Regions from separate parts of the Homo sapiens genome. Here all the other regions are reported to be linked to region 4. Evidence: microRNA targets listed by miRTarBase, many of them from high-throughput screens and not tested one by one. Region 4 holds a microRNA gene; each other region holds the end of a gene's coding sequence.

Region 1 (4,062 bases), not on the chromosome of region 4:
TGCCTTCAGGCTGGGGAGTAAGCTGGGTGGAGGGTCCCTTTCCACTCACCTGTCTGGCCCTCACTCCCCCTGGGATTGCCTGTCACACCTGCCCCCTGCCCAGGACTCCTCCACCTCCTGCCTCCTGAGAGCCTCTTTTTGTCCCTTCAGCCCTTAGCTGTGTGTATCCCCTCCCAGCCCCCATGACAGCAGAGATTTGTGCCTGTTGAGGTCACTGCTGTGCCCCCATGCTTAGCAGAGTCCCTCACAGGAAAGAAGTGCCCGATAAACACCTAAGATTAAGTGGATTATCAACTCAGCAGGGGGCCGGGGGTGGGGGGCATGGGTGTCAGGACTTTAGATCCAGATTAAGGTTCTACCACTTTACAAACCAGTAGCCTGGGCAGGCTGCTTCCTCTCCTCGTACCAGCTTCAGCAGCAGCAGCCGAGGAATGATGGCAACCACACAGGGCCTTTGTGAGGACTGGACTCCGTAAGGGGCGTGAACGAGTCTGGGCGTGCCCTCCACCAAAGTGAGCATGAGAGGAATGGGGGCCGAAGGAACTTCTGCGGTCACTGCCAGGGTGGGTTTGTGAGCATGGAGCGGCCGCCTAGCCTCACCTTGCCGTGGGTGAGCAGCTCCAATGCAGGTGAACTACAGGGCCGACGGCAAGTGCCACAAGAACCCATGTTCCTTTCTTTACCTGGGACCCACGCCGTGCCTACTGGGCACGGAGCTGCTGCCCAAAACACATTTGTAGAATGAGTGAGTGAGGGGTGGGCAATGACTACCTGAGTGCATGAATCAGTAACGGACAGCGTGTGACACCAAAGCACAGGTCAGGTGTTGGGTCCGGTGCAGGCTGATGTCAAGGTGGTCATGTGAGCTCGCTCAGTTCTGTATTACAAAGTGGGATGAGTAGTGCAGAGCTGGGATTTGAGCCTGGCTCCTCGCCCCTGCATCTTTGCTCATGCCTGGGAGGGCAGCTCCAGTGAGTTAACACATGGCTTGGGGATTCCCCCCTCCACACACAGTCATACAAGGCAGGCAGGCAAGCTCTCCTTTCCACAGGGCAGGAAGCCAAGGGTCAGAGAGGTTAGTCCACTTGCCCAGGGTCACACAGCCTTAAGGGGCAGGGTGGAAACTTGCCCTGAATCTTTCTTGCTATAGGTGTCAGCTCCTGCCACCATATACTGGAGCAGGTAGAAGAGGCTGACCCGAGACTCAGTGTGCCCGACTTATGGGGCACCGAGCTGCCAATTCTACCAGACAGGGCACCTCCCATCCTCCCAGGCCTCCAGAAGTGCCCAAGGCCAGAGCTCCACAGAAGGACCCTAGGAGAAGTGAGCAATGCTTCCTCAGTCTTTGCTAACCCAGCCCACTCTGAACTGCCAAGGTTCACCCCCTCCTTTCGAGTGACCTGAAATTTCAAAAACTGACATGCAATACCAATTATCTAAGCAAGGCTCTGGCCACTTGAGAACACGCTTTTTTGATCCACAATCACTCCCTAGTCCTCTAACAAATCCTCCAGGATCTGTAGACCATCAGTGGCCCTGGTTTCTAAACCCCCTGCCTCCAGATGAGGCCCCAGGACCCTCCTCAAGCACATCAGGGTGTGAAAGGGCAGATTAAGGGCTCTAACTGGAAATCCGAATTTCTCCTTCAAGTCCCCCTCTACTATGAAACCCCCAAGTCAAAGACGCCTGCAGCTTGCCGCCTCCAATCGCTCCTGAGTAATCGCAGCCTTCAGCCAGGTTGAAAATACCCCTTTGGGACCCTCACTGCGGCCTCCCAAGGCCCCAGGAACATGGGTCCTCAGGACCTGGGCTGTGGGTCCAGGAAACCAGTCGCCATGGTCGAGCCCCCTTCTGATCATGAACAACAGCGCTCACCTGGCAGGGCGGCTGCAGCGGCTCTACCGGACCAAGCCCCTCGGGCACGCGCACTGCCTGAAATGCCCTAAGCGCTCGGCTGGACTGTGGCATACCCGCCCTCTCCCCCAGCCCCTGGCTGGCTCGTCTGCCTGGCCCCTGCAGCAGAGACAGCTGAGCGCACCATCCTCCTCCCGTAGGGGGCGGGGGGTCCTGTCCCCGGAGCGGCAGCCGCCGGGACCTCATCTCCCAGCCTCCTTCGCAGGGAGCCGCAACCACGGGACCAGCCCCGTGAACGACCCAGGTAGGGGGACGTGCGCCCTTTGCAGTCAGAGTCTCCCCCAGAAGCTGGAGGCAGGAGGAGGGTGCTTTTGGGGTTAGGGGCGGGGGCCACACGATAGGAGTGGAGGAAGCCAGCCGCCCCTGTGAGAGGGTGGTAGAAGCCGTGGGGGCTCCTTCCCCTGCAGCGGGCAGGCCTGGCCCTGACCAGTCCGCCCTGCCCCATCTACAAGCAGCTCCCAGGCCCTGTGAGTGCCCGCACCATAGTGAGGATATCCGCGGACAGGCCCCCCTGCCTAGAGCCCTCCGCGGGCGACCCAACGGGCCACTCCCGGGGCGCGGCTGACGCTCTGCTGATGCCCCGGCGAGAGCCTCCGTTTACCCCTCTTGCCCTTCTCCCTCCCGGACTCAAGAACCACGCAGAGGGGGACATTTGGATAGTGCCGTTTATTGTTCCAGCACCCCTTCCTCCACCACGCCCAGGCCTGGGACAAACGGGCACCCGCCTCCTGCGGCGCTGCCTCTGCTACCCGGAATCCAGGAGGGGAAGGAACGACTCGAGCTCTAAGGATGGGACCCGGAAGGCAGAAAAAAATAATGGATTGGGGCGGGCGGGGAGTCAAAAGGTGGGCTGATTAAAAGAAAATTCTAAAAGAGAAAAGGGCCCCTGGTTCTCTTCCCTCTCTGGGATCCTCTAAAGGGCCTGGTTTCTCCATTCCTCGCAGCACCCCCCACCCCCGCCCCGGACAACTGAGGAAGAGCAGGGAAAATGGCCTTCCGCTTGGGGCCTGGTCGCCACTCGGCCTCTGCAGTTCTCTCCATTGTCTCTCCGGCTCGCAGGCCGATAACTTAGGAAGGGCGGGCCAGGCTGAGGGGGCAGAGTCTCGAGGCGGAGAAGTGAACGGGCCCTAATACGCCCCAGTGCCCCCCCACGGACGGCGCAGGGACAGAGGAGGGCGGGGAGCCGGGGATGCCGCGGGGTCCATCGCACCCCGTCCGCTTCTCCCTGGGTCTCTTGGTCTTGCACGTCGTCGCTCCCGCCAAGCCCGAGGGGCCCTGCCCGCCCCCCCCCCCGGGCCCCTCCCCTACCGGCCCTCCCCACCGCGGCACTCGGGGCACCGCCCGCCCGCGGCCTCGTCGTCGTCGTCCTCCTCCTCCCCGCCCGCGCGGTAGTAGCTCTGTCCGCAGCTGCTGCAGACCGAGGGCGCGCCCACCGCGTGGATCTTCTTGTGTCTCCGGAGCGCGGCGCCCTGCACGAAGCCCTCCCCGCACTCCACGCAGATGTGGGCCGGCTCCTCGCCCCCCGCCGCCCCGAGCCCGTCCCCGTGCTGGGCCCGCTGGTGCGCCAGGAGCCCGGCCCCGTGCCCGAAGCCCTTCCCGCACTCCAGACACACGTACGGCTTGGGGGCCGGGGCGCGCCGCGACCGGGGCCCCGCGGCCTTTGCCCCCGCGCCCGCCATGGCTGCCGCGGCCGCGGCCCCCTCGCCCGGCGCGCCCACCACGATGATGCCCTCGCCATCGCCCACGGGGATGGCGATCTCGCCGTCCGCCGCCACCGCCTCTTCGGGCCCCTTGGCCCGCCGGACGCTAGCCGCCAGCACCTTGGCCGCCACGCCAGGCCCCGACAGCTCCGGGTGCAGCCGCAGGTGACGCGCGAGGCTCTTGGGCTGGCTGAAGCCGCGGCCGCAGCGCGGGCACACGAAGGGCTTGAGGCCGCTGTGCGAGCGCCGGTGCTTGGCCAGGCTCTTGCTCTGAGTGAAGCTGCGGCCGCAGTCGGGGCAGGTGTAGGGCTTCTCGCCCGTGTGGATGCGCTGGTGCTGCATGAGGTTGGAGCTCCAGCTGAAGCGCTTGCCGCACTCCAAGCAGGCGTAGGGCTTCTCGCCCGTGTGGATGCGCCGGTGCTGCACCAGGTGCGAGCTCTGCGAGAAG
Region 2 (4,062 bases), not on the chromosome of region 4:
TTGAAGCAAGCCTAGCTGCTGGCACTTAGAACAGTCCCGAACTGCTCTTGAGACAGCTTGGGTGGTAGAATTGGGAGAGGCCAACCTATCAGTTGCAGTGTTGAAATGTGGCCACCAGGAGGCAGCAGAAAGTTGGGCTGGTAGCAGAAAAGGGCCTGGGGAGCCCACCTCTCATCCTGGCCTTTGTGCTTCAGGGCTCACTCGCTTTGACCTGCTGGGTGACTTTGGACGCTTCAACTGGCTGGGCAATTTCTACATTGTGTTCCTCTACAACGCAGCCTTTGCAGGCCTCACCACACTCTGTCTGGTGAAGACCTTCACTGCAGCTGTGCGGGCAGAGCTGATCCGGGCCTTTGGTGAGAGGGAGTGAGGGTGCAGGCTAGTGGGGGGTGGTAATCATCTAGGACACTCTGGAACATGGATCACCCCAGCAGGGGAGAGGGTGTGCTTCCTGCTTTGTGGGTAACGTACCTCATCCACACATTCTGTGGCTTGGCTGCCTGGTCCCTAACGGACTGGACCTTTGACTTGCTTTTGACTGCCCATCTCCTCTTCTCCAGGGCTGGACAGACTGCCGCTGCCCGTCTCCGGTTTCCCCCAGGCATCTAGGAAGACCCAGCACCAGTGACCTCCAGCTGGGGGTGGGAAGGAAAAAACTGGACACTGCCATCTGCTGCCTAGGCCTGGAGGGAAGCCCAAGGCTACTTGGACCTCAGGACCTGGAATCTGAGAGGGTGGGTGGCAGAGGGGAGCAGAGCCATCTGCACTATTGCATAATCTGAGCCAGAGTTTGGGACCAGGACCTCCTGCTTTTCCATACTTAACTGTGGCCTCAGCATGGGGTAGGGCTGGGTGACTGGGTCTAGCCCCTGATCCCAAATCTGTTTACACATCAATCTGCCTCACTGCTGTTCTGGGCCATCCCCATAGCCATGTTTACATGATTTGATGTGCAATAGGGTGGGGTAGGGGCAGGGAAAGGACTGGGCCAGGGCAGGCTCGGGAGATAGATTGTCTCCCTTGCCTCTGGCCCAGCAGAGCCTAAGCACTGTGCTATCCTGGAGGGGCTTTGGACCACCTGAAAGACCAAGGGGATAGGGAGGAGGAGGCTTCAGCCATCAGCAATAAAGTTGATCCCAGGGTTTGCTTTGTTTTTTTAAAGCACCTGTCTCTGTGTATATTTGAACAGCCTTGCTCCCACCAGCCCGGCGTCTGCCCAGTAAGAGAAGCAGAGGGGTCCTGCCCACCATCCTTTTCCTTCCCCTTCATCTATATTATTACCATCCTTTGGGGACTTGGATCTGGTGTTAGGCCATGCAGTTGGGCAGTGGGAAACTCCTCCATCCTCAGTCTTGCTTAAAGCTGGCTTGTCCCCTGACTCCTCCTTATATTCATGGCCTTGTTTCTGTACCTTGAGTATTGGGGGTAGGACATGGGCATAGGAGTAGGCTAACCTCCCCGATACACTCATACCTTCAGCCCTATCCTCCCTGGCTTAACTATTGGATATAGAGTAAAATAAGTGGCTGGCTGACAAGGATTTTCATTTCCTACCTGAGAGAAGAATCTAGCTTTTTACTAGAGGCCATCAGTTTCTTGAAAAGCCCATGTGCTATGTTGGGAGTAAGAGCGCAAAACTTAGGCTTATACAGATTGTGTATTGCACAGCTTCCAGGGACACCATTCACCTCATAGTCATTGTGTGGATAGTTACTATGATAGTTTTCTAATAAATGTCAGTCATCTTGAGGAAGGGGTGCTTTTTTTTTCTTTTTTCTTCTTCTTTTTTTTTTTTTTTTTTTTGTGAGACAAGGTCTGGCTCTATCACCCTGGCTGGAGTGCAGTGGTGCAATCTCAGCTCACTGCAACCTCCGCATTCTGGGCTCAAGCCATTCTTCCAGCTCAGGCTCCAGAATAGCTAGGACAACAGACACATGCTACCATGCCTGGCTAATTTTTGTATTTTTAGTAGAGATGGGGTTTTGCCATGTTGCCTGGGCTGGTCTTGAACTCCTGAGCTCAAGTGATCCACCTACCTTGGACTCCCCAAATGATGGAATTACAGGGGTTAGCCACAACACCCAGCCATCTTTTTTTTGGGGGGGGGGGTCCTCACTCTGTCACCCAGGTTAGAGTGCAGTGGCATGATCTTAGCTCACTCTACAGCCTTGAACTCTTGCACCCAAGTGATCCTCCTTCCTCAGCCTCCTGAGTACCTAAGACTACAGGCATGTACCACTACCTCCCACTAATTAATTTTTTTTTTTTGAAACGGGGTGTCACTATGTTGACCAAGTTGGTCTTCAACTCATGGCCTCAAGCAGTCCTTGCCTCGCCCCCAAAGTGTTGGGATTACAGGAGTGAGCCACTGTGCCTGGCCTGGTTTTTTCTGATGTACACAAAGTTGCTATGAGTACTAGCCATAGAGTGTGGTGAGGGGAGGGTGAATATGAAACACAAAGTGTAGATTCCACAAATGCTTGCAAAGCACCCTTCTGTAGAGTAGGCACTTAACCTTGGAGATACATGATAAATATGTGTGTGCTTAAGATTGCTTTGTCTAGTAAGGTGCCAGATAATTCTAATACTGTTCTAACACTGCAGTTAAGTAATGGTTCTCGAGGGAACACAGGTGGGCAGTGTTGGGACATCAAGGAAGGCTTCTTAGAAGAAATGACTTCTAAACAAAAGAAATTGGACGTGGTGCCTCTGAGATGAGATCTGAGTGGCTGAAAATGGAGCCCCGGGAGTCCAGAGAGGGAGAAAGCTGGAGAGGTGCCTAGATGGACGGTTAAGGGAAGTGATCCTCACCTCTTACAAAGACTTTTGAGTGTCCACTGCCCTTCAGCAGCTTCCAACTGAGAAGTCATTCATTTGAAAAACAGCAGCTATTAGATGCCTGGCAAAGAAGAGAAGGGGAAAAAAGTTGGAAGTCCTAAATGAGACAATAAGTACCAAGCTCTGTTCCTGGTTCTGGGGAAGTTCCAAAGGAGACTGCAAAGTTAGTAGAGAAATGGGCCCCTGGTATCCTCACCTCCCAGTCCTGCTTAATGCTGAATGTGAGGAGAGATGGAAGTCGGGGAGATCTGGGGAGGACTACAGAGAAGGGAGGCTCTGGTTGTATGCCCAAAGGGCTTGGCTGGTCTTGGGCAGAAATTGGAACCCATACTTCCTGGATGACAGCGGAGGGCATGGCCTGCCAGGGTAGGCTTTGAGAGAGTAAAAATTCCAATTCAAGTATCAGAGGAGGGTGGTTTGGTTCCAAGTTTAAGCTTGGAGGTAGAAGGATGTTTAGGCAGCCAAGGACTGTAAAGCTACAAGTATTTCCTAGGCAGGTGTCTGCCTGGTTTCCAGGATGGGACACACTTCAGTCGCAAAATGGACCAGCAGTGACCGGCTAGATCCCCCGCCCGGGTGGGAGGGGGTGGGACGGTCTTGGGAGAAGGGCGGAGGGCGGGGCCAGGGGCCACTTAAGGCGGAGTCCGGAGTCCGGGCGTTCTGGCAGCACCAGAGTCCTGCAGCAGAGACGGGCTGGGCTGGCACTCACCCACGACCCCCCTTCCCTGCTATGATGGTTTGTCAGTAGCAGGTCCTAGACACCCCCCGCCCGCTCCCGGGGCACGTGGGCAGAGCTAGCAGCAGCCAGGTGCACGGAGCCACAAGAGCTCTAGGGCACTCTGGGGGCAGCTGTGCCTGCTGCCCTCTCTGGTGCCTGTGGAGATGCCTAACTGACAGGAGAGTTAGTGAGGACAAGAACGCTCCCTTTTGGCCGAGGTCCGCTGTATCCATGGCTCTCCTGACCAATCTACTGCCCCTGTGCTGCTTGGCACTTCTGGCGCTGCCAGCCCAGAGCTGCGGGCCGGGCCGGGGGCCGGTTGGCCGGCGCCGCTATGCGCGCAAGCAGCTCGTGCCGCTACTCTACAAGCAATTTGTGCCCGGCGTGCCAGAGCGGACCCTGGGCGCCAGTGGGCCAGCGGAGGGGAGGGTGGCAAGGGGCTCCGAGCGCTTCCGGGACCTCGTGCCCAACTACAACCCCGACATCATCTTCAAGGATGAGGAGAA
Region 3 (4,062 bases), not on the chromosome of region 4:
CCAGGTGCAGTGACTCAAGCCTGTAATCCCAGCACTTTGGGAGGCAGGAGGATCACTTAAGCCCAGGAGTTTGAGACCAGCCTGGGCAACACAGGGAAACTCCATCTCTACAAAATAAAAAATGTTAAAAAACCTAGCTGGGCATGGTGGTGTACGCCTGTGGTCCCAACTACTCTGGAGGCTGAGGTGGGAGGATCACTTGGGCCCCAGAGGTTGAGGCTGCAGTGAACCATGATCGTGCCACTGCACTCCAGTCTGGACAACAGAGGAAGACCCTGTCTCAAGAAATAAAAATAATGGCCAGGCACAGTGGCTCGCTCATGCCTGTAATCCCAGCACTTTGGGAGGCTGAGGTGGGTGGATCACTTGAGGTCAGGGGTTCGAGACCAGCCTGGCCAACATGGTGAAAGCTCATCTCTATTAAAAATACAAAAATTATCCAGGCATGGTGGCATGTACCTGTAGTCCCAGCTACGTGGGAGGCTGAGGCTGGAGAATTGCTTGAACCTGGGAGGTGGAAGTTACACTGAGCCAAGATCGTGCCACTGCACTCCAGCCTGGGTGACAGAGCGAGGCTCCATCTCAAAAATAATAATGATAATGATAATAATAAAATGATAGATGCAGAGGTGACTGGGATCTATAAACGGGAGCTGTGTTGGGGAGCGGGGACACTCAGGCACTTGGGACAGGGACATTTGGTGGCATCTGGGTCTGGAGCAATGGCAAGCTGCTGTAGTAGGAAGGCTTCAAAAGCTCCAAACGGGGCCTCCAGATGCTGTGAGTCCTCTCCTAGGACGCCCCATGTGGGAGGCCCCATATGGGAAACACTGGGTGGGACCAAAAGACTCCAAAGTCCCTTCCAAGCTGGAGACTCAGCTCTACATCCTGAGCCCCGCCTCCCACAATGGACGAGGTGCTCCCTTGGAGCTGATTTCAGGTCGCCTGTCCTGGGGGCATTCCCACCTGAGCTCCTCTGTGGTTTGCAGAACTCACCCATACCATCACTGGCCCAAAGGGATGGGGTGCTATGGTCTGAATGTTTGTGTCCCCCCTAAATCCTAGGTTGACTTTTTTTTTTTTTTTTTTTTTTTTTTTTTGAGATGGAGTCTCACTCTGTAACCCAGGCTGGAGTGCAATGGCGCAATCTCGGCTTGCTGCAACCTCCGCCTCCTAGGTTCAAGCAATTCTCCTGCCTCAGGCTCCTCAGTAGCTAGGATTACAGGCATGCACCACCACGCCCAGCTAATTTTGTATTTTTAGTAGAGACAGGGTTTCACCATATTGGCCAGGCTGGTCTTGAACCCCTGACCTCCACTGATCCACCTGCCTCAGCCTCCCAAAATGCTGGGATTACAGGCGTGAGCCACCTCACCCAGCTCTAGGTGGAAATTCTAACCCCAAGGTGATAGTTTTAGGAAGCAGGGCCTTGGAAGGCGATGAGGTCATGAGGGTGGGGCCACATGAATGGGATTAGTGCCTTTATGAAAGGGGCCCAAGATGGCCCAGAGCAGTGGCTCATGCCTGTAATCCCAAGCACCTTGGGAGGCCAAGCAGGTGGGAGGATCACTTGAGGCCAGGAGTTTGAGGCCAGCCTGGGCAACAAGGTGAAATTCCCCATGTCTACAAAAAAAAAAAAGGAGGGGCAAGAGAGCTTGCTAGTCCCTTTCACCCTGTGAGGACACAGTGAAAAGAGCCATCTGTGAAGCAGGCCCTCACCAGACACCGCTTCTGCCAGCACCTTGATCTATGAGAAATGAATCTGCGGTTTCTGAGCCACCCAATGTGTGGTATTTTGTTACAGCAGCTCAAATGGACTGAGACGAGCAGGGCCCTCAGGCCATGGTGGTTTATTGATGCACGTCGCAAGCACAGCACAGGCAGGCGGACCCCAGCCCCGGGGGGACATGAGGGCCAGGGGAGGGCAGTGGGCCACCCCCACAGCAATGCTGTCAGCACAGGGGGAAGGAAAGGGCCTGGGCCATGTTCTCTCCTTCTCCACACCTCTCCCCAAGCCTCCAGGCCTCCTGACTCATCCCAGAGAGACAGCTGGCCACACAACTGCCCCTGGCTACAGATAGGTGACCGTTGTCCACCTGTCCCTCACCGAGGTATGGCCTTGCCGGCCCGCTGCTGCTTCCGTCCTTCATCACGAAAATCCAGCTGCTCATCCATCATCTCTGTCACCTCTGAGAAAGTCACTGTGAGGCTGCACTCTCCTCTGCCTGATGTCACCTCCATCATCCCCCAAACAGCCGGCTGCTGCTGTCAGCCCCTCCCACAGGCTCTCTGTTTGCTTTGTTGATTGTAGGGAGTCCACCCTCGTGACCTGTGTGACAGTAGGAATGAGGCAAAAACACAAGGAGGCCCGGGAAGGACTTCACCAAGAACTCCCCGGGGAGGGGCTCCCGGCCAGCAGGGTGGCAGGAGAGCAGACAGAGCCAGTGGGGAGGGGAGAGGCGGAGCAGCAGAGGGTCCACAGTCCAGGTCACGCATGGGCACAGTACAGTCATGGCACCATGGCAGAGCGAGTGAGCAAAGTGCACAGCTGGGCGGGGTGCCGGGGCCCGCGGGACAGCTTACAGGTCTCACGTTCCATGCCAGGCCCCAGCAGAGCATGAGGCGGCCCACTCCCAGCTGAGGAAGGGGCACCTCTGGGTCTCAGGGGTCTCCTCCCCCTCCTCAACCCCAGTGGCTGCTGTCTCAGACCCCTGCACTCTAAGCAAGGAGAAGGTATGCTGGGGTATGGAAGGAAGGAACATCCGACAGCCTGACGCCCCCAGTGCCAAGAGAAGAAAGAGAGTTCCTTTCTAGAGAGCAGGGGGAGTGTCCCGGTGGGCAGGTGGAGAAGGAGGGACAGCTCTCCCATGCAGGAAGAGGGTTCTTTGGGGCAAGGAGCAGCCAGGGAGTCACGGTGGTGCAGGAGACTATTTATAGAAGGAAGGGATCCAGGCCTGGAGTGGGAAGCCCCAGAGACCCAGCTCAGCAGGGAGGGGGCATTCTGTGGTTGGCCCTGAGTGGGGTGAGTGGGACTAAGAAAGATCGCCCCACAGCTCTCTGCATCTCTTCTGGAGGCAGCCAAGCTACCCATGGGCTTTGGCCCAGAGGGGCTTCCCTGGGAGAGCCCAGGAGGTGGGCAGGTCTTTGGGAGATAGAGACCTGGACGAGGCAAAGAACAGTAGGACAAGGAAACCAGAGGAAAGGGGAAGTTCTCCAGAAGTCCAGCCCAGCTGCCAACTACAGAGGCTGAGAAGCCTTTCCATGTCCACCAGGCTGGGTGTGGGCCACACTTACCAAGAGGACCACCGTCTGTTGCCTCCAATGCCAAGGGGCGAGGGGAGGGCAGCTGGGCAGAGTGGAGGGAGCAGGGGGGCAGGAGAGAGAAAGCCAGCTCCCTGAACCTGGGCTACCCACCTCCACCTTCCGCTCATCTCTCCCTCGCCCCCCAGCTCCCCAGGAGTCCCTAGCGGCCCACGCTGATGTTGCAGGTCTTGCAGCTGGGGTCCTTCTTGGCATCGGCAGTAGACAGACTCATGAGCTGGTGCCCACTGATCTCCCCCAGGGTGCCCAGGGACAGGTCGACGGGCTCAGTGTAGATGATCTCCAGGATGAGGTCCTGGGCGTGGCGGAAGACCAGCTCCCCATCCTCCACGCTGCAGGTCAGGAACTTGTTGCAAGCAATGTCCAGGAGGGGCAGGCGGTCGCGGCAGAAGCGGTCCCCCAGGGAGCCTTTGGGCGCCAGCACCAGGATGGCGTAGTGGTAGGCCGTGTACATGCAGTAGAAGTCCGCAAAGTAGAGGTTGGTGCTGGGATTGAAGAGGCGCTGAGCTGGGATCTGGAAGCGCCAGCGGCCGTAGGGGGAGTCCTGCGGGGGCTGGCCCGTGTTGAACTCCGTGTTGCAGCTGAAGAAGACCCCGTGGAGCATACCGCTGGTGGGGGAGCCGTGGCTGCCACTGTTGTCCTTCAGGTAAGGCTGCAGCATGTTCCCGCAGTGGGTCCTGCCCACCCCAGGGAGACACACCAAAGGGAAGAGAAGATGTGGCTGGTGAGCCGGGCTGAGGC
Region 4 (4,064 bases):
CCCAGACCCCCATACTGCAGTCTGGAGAAGAGGGGACCAAGGAAGAGGAGGTTGGAAGGGAAGAGGGTCTTGACATCCAGGCATTCTGCTCCGCCACCCTCCGGCACAGTGGCATGGCCAGCCTGGCTCCCATCCACTAGTCCCATTCCCATCCCACCTCACACTCATGCAGCTGGCCCTTCTCCTCTCTCCACCCCACCCCAGCACTACAGGTACCTTGCAGGTCACATCCAGCACAAAGGCACCACCTCTAAGGGGCACCATTTCAATCTATGATGTGTATATTTATTGCAGCAATTTCCAACAATGTGTGTTAGCAAAGGGGTGCCTTTTTCATACAGTGTCATACGGGCTAGTGGTCACCCTAGTGCTACCCTTTGAGGCCCCACCTAACCCATCCCTCTTCTCAGCTCTTCCATCTCACTCCCCACCCTACTTACCAGCCCCCCTACACACACACACTCTCACACACACACACACACACACACACACACAGTCCTCCCTCCCACCCCAAACTCCATATCCTGCAGGGGCCTTTCTTACCCGCCCACGGTATGTCCGTCATAGGTGGAGTCGTTGAGGTACACGGCCTCAGATAAATACATTGTCTGCCCCACAGGGGCGGTGTAAGACAGGAGTCCATCTGGGGCAGGGTGAGAGGATGGGGGTCAGAGGCACTAAGGCTCCATCCCCCATCCCTGCATCAGGCCTGGGCAGGTTTCAGGTCCCTTCTTGTATCTCTCCACTGGCTCATTGGCATGGAGGAGACAATGCTGGCTAGCCCCCTCCTCAGAGTGACAGCTTCCCAGCAGGAGAAGGGATCCTGGATGCCCATTCTCCACACTCCCCACCCTCCAGTCCCCTGCTCAGGAAACAGATTCCCAGGAAGCTGAGCCACTCACCCCTCCAGAGGCAGCCATAGAGCTCTACCCGCAGACAGACGCTCATGACCCGGTCAGCCCGGGGGTAGAAGCGAACCAGTCGGGCAACCATGGGGGGCCCAAGGTCCTTCAGCACCACTCCCTCAGGGTCCTCATTGCCTGAGATCACCTGTGGGCCAGGAAACAGGGGGTGGGTGGGATGGAGTCCAGGTCAGATCTTACTTCCCACCCACCAGCTGCTCCCTGGCCCAGCCCACAGTGGCCACTTAGAGACCCATGAGGGGTGGCACCGAGCACACAGCACTGTGGGGCGCAGCCAGGCATGGGTGAAATGAAGATCTGCAGCTGAGACCTCTGGCTCTGTCGCAGCTCTGATGTTCCATCCTCAGACTTCAGGCTCAGCTGCCCTCTTCTCCTTGCCTGGCTCCATCCATTTGTCTCCAAGCCTATCATCCCATTGTGCCCAGATTCTCCCCAATCCTCACAGCCCTGCACCCCTGCCTCAGCTTCCCCTTCATTTCAGCCCATTCCCTCTGTTCATTCAGCAGAAGTTGGCTGAGTGCCCGCTCTGTGCCAGGCGCGTTCTCAGTGGTGAACGTCACTCCCCACCCTTGTAGGACTGAGATCCCAGCAGGGAAAACAGCTGCGAAGAACAAGAGGCAGGAAGTATGGACAGAGCAGTGAGGTGGGTGGCCAGAAAAGGCTCTCTAAGGAGGTGACACCTGGCAGAGAACTGAATGGAGTGAGGGAGAGCCTGTGGTTATTTAGGGGAGGAGCTTTGCAGGCACAGAGAAAATGTCCAGAAGCTGTGGGAACGAGCCCTGGCTTGTTCCAGCAACAAGAAGAAAGGCAGCGTGGCCAAGGAGGCGCCAAGAAACAAGTGATGCAGGCAGGAGCCAGGTCAGGCTGAGCATCCTGCACCAGCTAGGGACTCAGCTTTTGTTCTGGCAGAGTGGAAAGCCAGCATGGGGGTGTCAGCTAGGTGTGACGTATCTGATTTACATGCTCTAAGGTCCACTGGATGCCGCCCCCCCAGGTGGAGATTTGACTCCAGGCAGAAAAGGGCAGAAGCAGGGAGACGCGTTTGGCATCTACTGCACTCATCTAAGCTGGAGATGGCGGGCAGGTGGCCTAGGGCAGTAGAGGTGGAGTGGTGAGGAGTGACTGGACTCAGGAACACTATGGAGGTAGAACAGACGGGGCTGCTGATGCTTTGGAAGGAGGTGAGAGAAAAAAAGGAATCAAGGATATCATCTTAACTTATAGCCTAGGCAACCAGGCAATGGTGATACCACTTCCTGAGCTGGAGAATGCCAGGGGAGGAGCAGGTTTAGGCTGGGAATGGGAATCAAATTCAGCTTGGGAAGTTAAACGTACGTTTGAGATGCCTATTAGACATCTAGGTGGCTGGCTACAGTGCTTGTAATCCCAGCACTTTGGGAGGCTAAGGTGGGAGGATCACTGAGCCCAGGAGTTCAAGACCAGCCTGGGCAACACAGCAAGACCCCATCTATTAGAAAAAAAAAAAAAGACATCTAAGTGGAGAAATCCAAAAGGTGGCCAGGTTTACAATATTGTTTGGAGCTCAGCTGAGAGGCTTAGTCTGGAGATGATATAAACTGGAGAGTCGTCAGCGTATAGGTGGTGTTTAAAGTACAGCTGGAAGTGAGGAGAGCCAACCTCCTCTGGGTGCTGCCCCTGCCAGTCTCACCTCCTGACCCCAGCGGTCCTTCCAGCCCATCCAGCGGCGACCATCCCGGGAGTAACGCAGCCGGTAGCTCCGGGAGAACTCCTTGCCCAGGCCCCCGGCATGCCGTCCCTGGGTGCCCACCAGAGCCACCAGGTGCAGTCGTTGTAGATCCACCTGCAAGTACTCCTCCTCCTTGGGAAACACCGACCCTGCGGGGCACCAGGCCCCATCCCCGTCACTGCTCTCCAACCTGAGGGTGAAGAGGGGCACAGAGAACATCTGGCCCCAGGTCTGCCTCCATCTCCAGTATTTAAACCCCACTTCATTTGCCCCCTCAGCCTGCAGGGGTTTCACTGGCATGGGCAGAGGGGTTGGAGGGGAAGTAGAGGTCCCAGGAGCTCCTCTCGGGGCAGCTACAAGTGTGCCAGGTGTGCCAAGTACCTGCTGTGGCGGGCGGCAGTGGAATCTGACCAGGAGCTGGAAGCAGAGATGTCACTGTCTGGGATGGTCCGGTCCTGCATGCCCAGGGCATAGCGGCACTTGGCTGAGTAAAAAGCAGGCATGTAACAGGTCAAGGCCCCCAACTCTCTACCTCCCAAGCCCTGGCCCTCAGGGACCCATGATTCAGTCTCCTCACCAGGATCAAAATGTCCCTTCATGTCAGCATCTCCACTTGCCACCAAGAGCAGCAGCAGTAAAGATGACAGGGCCTCTGGTCCCATAGCTCCTGATCCCTCGGGCCTAAGGGGGTGGGGGCAGCATCTCTGCAGGGGATAAAATGGGTGGTGCGTAAGTTAATCAGGGGACTGAGTCATAGCTGACAGCAACAGACAGAATGGGCCGCTTTGGGGATAATAACAGTAAAACAACAACAACAGTCATTGTTTAACAGCATCAGCTATATTTTTAGAATGCTTCCCCTGTGCCAGACACTGGCCTAAACCCTTAAACAGAATCCATAATTTTATCTTCACAGTCACTTCATAAGGTAGATACTATTACTATCCATATTTAACACATGAAGAAACTAGGGCAGAGATCAGTTAAATAACTTCCTAAAGCCCCATTTCTCCAATCAGGAATGGGCAAAATATCCCCATAAACAACGGCTTAGAACAAACAACAAGTGTGCAAAAAATGTTTATAACACATACAACAGGAAAAGGTTTAATAACTACAATAAACTAAGGCCCCTTAGGAACTGACAAGAAAAAATATATAAGTAACCCAATAAAGAAACAGCCAAAGAATGTGAATAGTCATTTCACAGAAAAGCAAAGCCAAATTGCCAACAAACATTTTTTTTAATGGTCAAATTCACCAGCCTCAGGGAAATACCAAGCAGACTGACAAGATATTTTTTTAAGGCTGTAACATATAAAAGTGGTAGAAAGTGATGAAAAGGGAGGCACCATGCTCAATGGCAGAAATGAGTGTTATCTTCTATTTGGAAAGCAATCTAGCAATGTCTATTATAATTAAAAATGCACATC

The links. Region 4 holds the annotated microRNA hsa-miR-4640-5p (UGGGCCAGGGAGCAGCUGGUGGG, at 1,110-1,132, opposite strand). A microRNA usually pairs through its seed, bases 2 to 8, with sites in the 3' UTR of a target mRNA and lowers its output. Matches are read on the target gene's strand: a 7mer-m8 pairs with bases 2 to 8, a 7mer-A1 pairs with bases 2 to 7 and ends in A, and an 8mer does both.
Region 1: the mRNA of ZNF787 is a reported target of hsa-miR-4640-5p. Seed matches in the 3' UTR shown: 7mer-m8 at 2,994-3,000.
Region 2: miRTarBase lists LMBR1L as a target of hsa-miR-4640-5p. Seed matches in the 3' UTR shown: 8mer at 1,027-1,034.
Region 3: miRTarBase lists PHYHIP as a target of hsa-miR-4640-5p. Seed matches in the 3' UTR shown: 7mer-A1 at 3,281-3,287, 7mer-A1 at 1,978-1,984, 7mer-A1 at 1,929-1,935 and 7mer-m8 at 1,912-1,918.

What each region holds. Positions count from the first base shown.
Region 1 is chr19:56,084,805-56,088,866 of GRCh38, forward strand. ZNF787 (zinc finger protein 787) reads right to left here. Exons shown (of 3, transcript NM_001002836.4): 3 at 2,562-4,062. The coding sequence ends at 3,219. Among named protein-coding and RNA genes, the nearest start is that of LINC01864, 20 kb to the left of the region's middle. RefSeq lists enhancers at 207-708, 709-1,208, 1,544-2,143.
Region 2 is chr12:49,094,238-49,098,299 of GRCh38, reverse strand. LMBR1L (limb development membrane protein 1 like) reads left to right here. Exons shown (of 17, transcript NM_018113.4): 16 at 195-356; 17 at 561-1,161. The coding sequence ends at 628. DHH (desert hedgehog signaling molecule) reads left to right here and starts at 3,499. Exons shown (of 3, transcript NM_021044.4): 1 at 3,499-4,062. The coding sequence starts at 3,788. DHH-AS1 (DHH antisense RNA 1) reads right to left here. Exons shown (of 4, transcript XR_007063295.1): 4 at 2,556-2,899.
Region 3 is chr8:22,217,890-22,221,951 of GRCh38, forward strand. PHYHIP (phytanoyl-CoA 2-hydroxylase interacting protein) reads right to left here. Exons shown (of 5, transcript NM_014759.5): 5 at 1,814-3,998. The coding sequence ends at 3,464. Among named protein-coding and RNA genes, the nearest start is that of PHYHIP, 12 kb to the right of the region's middle. RefSeq lists an enhancer at 2,125-2,825.
Region 4 is chr6:30,887,959-30,892,022 of GRCh38, reverse strand. It overlaps MIR4640 (microRNA 4640), which reads right to left and starts at 1,140; the gene lies at 1,051-1,140. It overlaps DDR1 (discoidin domain receptor tyrosine kinase 1), which reads right to left. Exons shown (of 18, transcript NM_001297654.2): 2 at 3,209-3,335; 3 at 3,013-3,115; 4 at 2,593-2,821; 5 at 903-1,050; 6 at 544-643; 7 at 1-21. The coding sequence starts at 3,293.